Regions from separate parts of the Homo sapiens genome. Here region 1 is linked to region 2. A link means that fine-mapping ties the variant in region 2 to the expression of a gene that starts in the linked region. Tissue or cell type: whole blood. Region 2 holds a variant in brackets; the other region holds the start of a gene. All regions are shown on one strand. Distances are from middle to middle.

Region 1 (2,659 bases), 27 kb after region 2:
CCATTTAAAATACCTAAGTAACCTTCTCTAAACATCCACATCATTAAAAATAAGTTTCCAACGTGGCAGACTCGTTTATGTAAAGCCATTATTGCTGTCTTATTGGAAGAACAAAACTCAAACCCAACTTTTCCAAGGCAAGAGTTGTGAAGTTATGTAACAGGTCGGTTTCAGCAACAGGCGATGCAAGAAAAAACAAAATACAACCTGCTTCCTGAATGATCTTAATAGCCAGCCAATATGTGCTCCTCCATGGGAGGCAAAAATTCTTCTCTGCCTCAACCTTCCGCTGGCCAGCGCCCCTATGCATGGGGAAAGTCGAACCTACGCTCCGTGACTGTGAAAGGTGGGGTGCCCAGATGGCTGCGACCACAGATGGGAGGTGGGACAGGCGGCCAGACCCACCAATGGGGAGACCGGGCAGGACCCCCGGACCAGGCCAGAGACAGGATTAGGGCAGGTCACCCTGGATACTCCCGGAAAGGGACTGAGGGAAGTCACTCAAGCTCCGGCCTGAGCAAGACCCGGCCCAGGTCGTAGGAGAACTCGAGGCAGAATACCGAGACCTGCGAAAGAGGGACCAGGGCAGGTCACCCTAGCCCGGATGGAATGGAAGAACTCAGATAAGTCAGGGGGCAGGTTACTCCAGGCCAGACTGATTGTGGGACACAAGGCAGGTCAGCCCGGGCCCAGGAGGGGGAGCAAACCCAGCTGGCGTAAAGGAACAGGGTCAGGTTAGCTCGGTCCCGAACGAAGTGGAGGACTCGAGGCAAGTCTGCCCGGCCCAGGAGTTGGGGGCCGAAGGAACTCAGCCAGGTCGCGGCCGGAGCGGGGGACCCGGGGCAGATCAGGCCAGGCCCGGGCAGATTGCAGGACCTGGGGCAGGTAAGCTCAGGCCGAGCCAGAGTAGGGGACCCGGGGCAGATCGCCCCAGGCCCGGCCGCGATGGGGGACTCCGGCCAAACACAGGCCGGGCCCGAGGCGAGTTCGGGGCAGGTCTCAGGCGCCGAGGCCGGGCCCGGGCTTCCGGCACCGCCATGTGCCGCTCACCTGCGCGTCGAGCTGTCCCGCCGCAGCGCCCGCGCCCGCGCCGCCCGGGCCTCCCGCGCCGCCACCGCCCGGGCCGCCGGGGCCGCCGGGGGGCGTCTGCGTCTGGCTAGGAAGAGTAAAGTCGGTGAACTCGAACTCGGAGCCCTGTGTGTCGGCGCCAAGCAGCTCGGCCTCCTCCGTGTCCAGGAAAGTGAGAGTCTGCGAGCTGGGCCCGTACGCCTCCACGCTCATGGTGCCTCCGGGTAGGGCCCTCGGGCCGGTTCCGCGCTGCACTCGAGCCCGCCGCCGCGCTGAGGCCTAGGCCGCAGGCCTCGGGTCGCTGCCGCTGTCGCCCCCGCGCGCCCGGAAAGGACCAAACCGCGCGCCCCGGCGCCAGCCGGACCGAGAGGTAACAGTGCCGAGCCGCCGCCGCTGCCGCCGAGCCCCTCCGCGCCTCAGCTCCCCTCGAAGCCGCCAGCCGCTCGCAGCCTAGAGCAGGAACTGCCGCCACCGCCGCCGTCGCCGTGCGCGTGCGCGAGCCCGACGCCGGCGGAAGCGCGCGCGCTCTTCGCGGGCGCCTGGTGCCCAGCAGGAAGACGGGACGCGCACCGCGCACGCGCAGGGGGTGGGGCTTTCAACCGCCGCTGCGGCGGCAGCTCGAGGACTTGGTCCCGCCCCAACTGCTAATTGGGGACGCCCGGGCGGCTGGCGGTGTGGACTTGGTGGTCTGCACCTGTGGTCGCTGCGACGGTGTTTCGGTTTAATTGAGCGCTAGCCGAATACCCTACATAGGTGGTCTCGGAACGCCCAACTGGAGAGACTGGGCAGGGACGGTGCGCTCCCACTCCTGGCAAAAGCTGCTTGGAACTCAGTTTCCCCATCTGTAAAATGGAGGGTGCCTCGCACATAGTAGATGCTCCCTGTGCATTGGTTTAAAAAGGGAGTGGGGCTCGGCGCGGTGGTCACACCTGTAATCCCAACACTCAGAGGCTGAGGCGGGAGAACTGCTTGAACTCAGGAGTTCGAGACCAGCCTGGGAGACAGAGTGAGACTCCATCTCTACAAAAAATATAAAAATTAGGCCGAGCGCGGTGGCTCACGCCTGTAATCCCAGCACTTTGGGAGGCCGAGGCGGGTGGATCATGACGTCAGGAGATCGAGACCATCCTGGCTAACATGGTGAAACCCCGTCTCCACTAAAAATACAAAAAATTAGCCAGGCGTGGTGGCACGAGCCTGTAGTCCCAGCTACTCAGGAGGCTGAGGCAGGAGAATCGCTTGAACCCAGGAGGCGGAGGTTGCAGTGAGCCAAGATTGTGCCACTGCACACCAGCCTGGGCAACAGAGTGAGACTCTGTCTCAAAAAAAAAAAAAAAAATTAGCTAAGCGTGGTGGTTCGCACCTGTAGTCCCAGCTACTAGGGAGGCTGAGGTGGGAGGATCGCTTGACCCTGGGAAGTTGAGGCTGCAGTAAGCCGAGATTGCACCACTGCACTCCAGCCTGGGTGACAGAGCGAGACCCTGTCTCAAAAATAAGTAAAAATAAATGAATGGGGATAGTCTTACGTACTGGGCCTGGCACTTGGAAATGATGGTTGCTGCTGTTCCTGATGCCTCTGCCACTGTTATTA
Region 2 (2,839 bases):
AAGGGTCAATACCCTTGCATGGCCCAGGAGACCAAGTGTGCCCGAGGGCGCAGCGCACCTGGTAGAGCTTGGTGTGCAGGGAGCCGCTGAACTGCATGTACTGCACCAGGTAGGAGCGCTGGCCCTCGTAGGGCGTGATGATGCCAATCTGGTCCGGCTTGGCGCCTGCCTTCAGCAACTTCGTGGTGATCTTCTCCACGTTCGCAGCCTCGGTCCTAAGAAACCCAGGCTGTCAGTGCTGGGCTCCACCTGTGGGATCCCGAGCCCTGAGGCTGGAGGCCGTGAGGGGTGCAGACACAACACCCTGCGGGAAGGCAGCTGCCATCACTGGCGTTTGCACAGCTGAGCTTCCCCAGCCTTCACCAGGGGAGTCTCGAGGGGCAGAAACGGCTGCCATGTGGGATTAGCAAGTATCTGCCCAATAAAAAACAAGTACAATGGAAAAGGAGGCAGAAACAACACGGTTTAGAGTCTAAACAGGCTAAACAGGAAATGAAGGCAAAAAAAGTTTCAGTCCCATGTTAAAAATAAGTAGAATGGGTCAACAACCTCTCAAGCTGTCCCCAAGACCTGCAGACGCCGGTGGGCCTGTCCCTGCTCACCTGTTCAGGTAGGAGGTGCCCGAGCTGGCAATCTCCTCTTGGCCCTGGGTCACGTAGAAGAACATCGGTTTATCGGGTTGGGGCCACTGGAAGTCAAATCCCTTCTTCACACGATCCGCTGTGAGGGGAGGGAAAGAAGTAACACTTCAAAAGCCCTAGCCCGCCTCAAATGAGTTCAGACACAGGGCAATGTAGTTGCTACGCTACAGTGCTGCAGGTCCTGGGGCAGGAGACTTCGATCTGTGAGGCCCTGGTGAGGTCACCTGAGCCGGTCCCCTGGCCAGAGATGCCCAGGATTGGGCAAGGCTGAGGAGAGGCCACCGAGAGCACCATGGCCAGCACAGAGCTGGCTCAGCCCCTGAACAGGGAACAGGGTCTCAGCCAGGGCTTTCTTGCAGCCTGGATCTCTGCCAACCCCAGGATACAGGATATTCTCCTGCTTCCTTCCAGAAGCTTGCCTTAAAGGCGCCACAGCCCCTACAACTGACTTGTGTGTGACACTGTTGAGCCAACAGTGTCCCCCTGCCCTGCAGCCTTGTCCATTCCTGCTGAGGGCCTGTTGACCGGTGGCTCTGCCTCTGGGCTCCCTCCTGGGCCGGGGCCCAACACTGCAGCTTGGGGGCCGGGGCGTCCTGCCATGTGAGCAGCCACTTTCTTCGGGCTCTTCATGCTCATCTTGGCTTTTCTGGGCCCTGTTGCGTTTCCTTAAAACTGTAAAACCAGTTTCTCAATTCACAGGTGCCCTCCTCACTCTACTGGGAGCTTCCATCAGTGGAGAAAACCGGTGTTTTTGCACAGCACCAGCCTGACATGGACAGAGGAAGCCAGACACGCCAGGACACATCATATGATCCCACGTCGAGCTGAAAATGAGGCCAAGTGGATCACTG[C/T]TGTTACAGCGAGCACAGGGGCCGCCGGATGAGCTCAGAAGTCCCTCAGCCCAGGGGCTGCTGTGGATGCGCACCCCTGGACAGTGGCCACCTGCAGGGATGAGGCGGCTTCTCACAGCTGGTCAGGTGGTTCTGGGTTCAGGTGCTGGCTATCCAAATATGCTCACTTAGTAACCACTCATTGAGCCAGACACTTGTAATGTGGCCACATGTTTACACTTCAATAGAGAATTTCCTAAAATGTACTTCCTGGGTGTGAACTACGTGCTGTGCATCAATTAGAGAGCAGTGTGCACCAGCGTCTGCCCTCTGGGCCGATGCCCTGGGGACCATGAGGGGTCTGAGCCTGCGCCGAGCCACGCCTTTCCCAGCCAGTGCTCAGACACCCCAGAGCACAAGCTAGGTCTCTGTGGCCTTGTGTTTTCAGCCTTGCCATGCGCTGGGAACAGCGGTGTCCCTGCGATGTCAATAGTGGCATCAACTCCCAAGACCTACCGCTAGGCAAAGAGTGGTGTGGCCCAACCCGGGGGGTGGGCTCTGAGCCTCACTTTCTCCTGTAACTAGGCCTGACAATACCAACCTCACAGGTTTGGAGTTCATGAGGCGCTGTGTCGGCAGCTTTCAGGACCCTTTACACTCTCAAAAGTTAGGGAGTCCAAACAGCTTTTGTTTATTGGATAACTGTATTCTCTAAACTTGGAAATTTAAAAAATATATTAATTCATTTAAAAATAACCCATTACGTGTTAGTTATTTCTCCAAAAATAAGCTAAGTAAGAAGAGTGGTCCTGTCTCCCATTTCTGCAAATCTCCTTACTATCTGGCTGAATCGGAGGCAGCTGGGCCCTGGGGTCCACCTCTGCTCAGTCCACCCTCCTGGGCTCTGGGGACGCTGTGGGGAAGCCAGGCCTCATGGATGCCTGAGGCTGGAAAGGGAGATGGGTTTGTTTTTACAGCCTTTCTGCATGGCTGGGAGTCTCCAGCCCTGAGGCCACATCAAGCTGGACAAAGGTGGGTTTCTGCAGGCCTGTGACAACTCTTTGCCACTCCATCCCCATGTGACTTCGTGACACTCTGCTGGTCATTCAGGAAGGATCTCCCACCGAGTCAAGTAGGTCTTCCAAAGGCTGACACATTTCACTGGCAATGGTGGAAACATTCCATCTGTCACCCCCACAGACCTCACCAGAAAAGTCTCTAGGTGTTGGGAAGACACCAAGCTCATGGCAAGCGACGTTAAGTTTTCCAAAATTCTGGTTTTCACTTGAATTTTACTACTGTAACAGATGTTGCCACTAGTTCTCCATGAAGCGACAGGTTCGATCATTTTTGGAAAAAGTCTGCCCA

Evidence for each region. PIP is the estimated chance that this variant, and not a neighbour inherited with it, causes the effect.
Region 1: it holds the start of UPF1, and the variant in region 2 is the best candidate, but not a certain one, in a credible set for the expression of UPF1 in whole blood (INTERVAL, PIP 0.55).

Annotation. Positions count from the first base shown.
Region 1 is chr19:18,830,832-18,833,490 of GRCh38, reverse strand. It overlaps UPF1 (UPF1 RNA helicase and ATPase), which reads right to left and starts at 1,532. Exons shown (of 24, transcript NM_002911.4): 1 at 1,051-1,532. The coding sequence starts at 1,281. RefSeq lists silencers at 919-998, 1,009-1,098, 1,249-1,348, 1,469-1,728.
Region 2 is chr19:18,858,202-18,861,040 of GRCh38, reverse strand. It overlaps UPF1 (UPF1 RNA helicase and ATPase), which reads right to left. Exons shown (of 24, transcript NM_002911.4): 16 at 603-720; 17 at 59-215. Among named protein-coding and RNA genes, the nearest start is that of UPF1, 28 kb to the right of the region's middle. The variant C/T (reference allele first, on the strand shown) is at 1,493.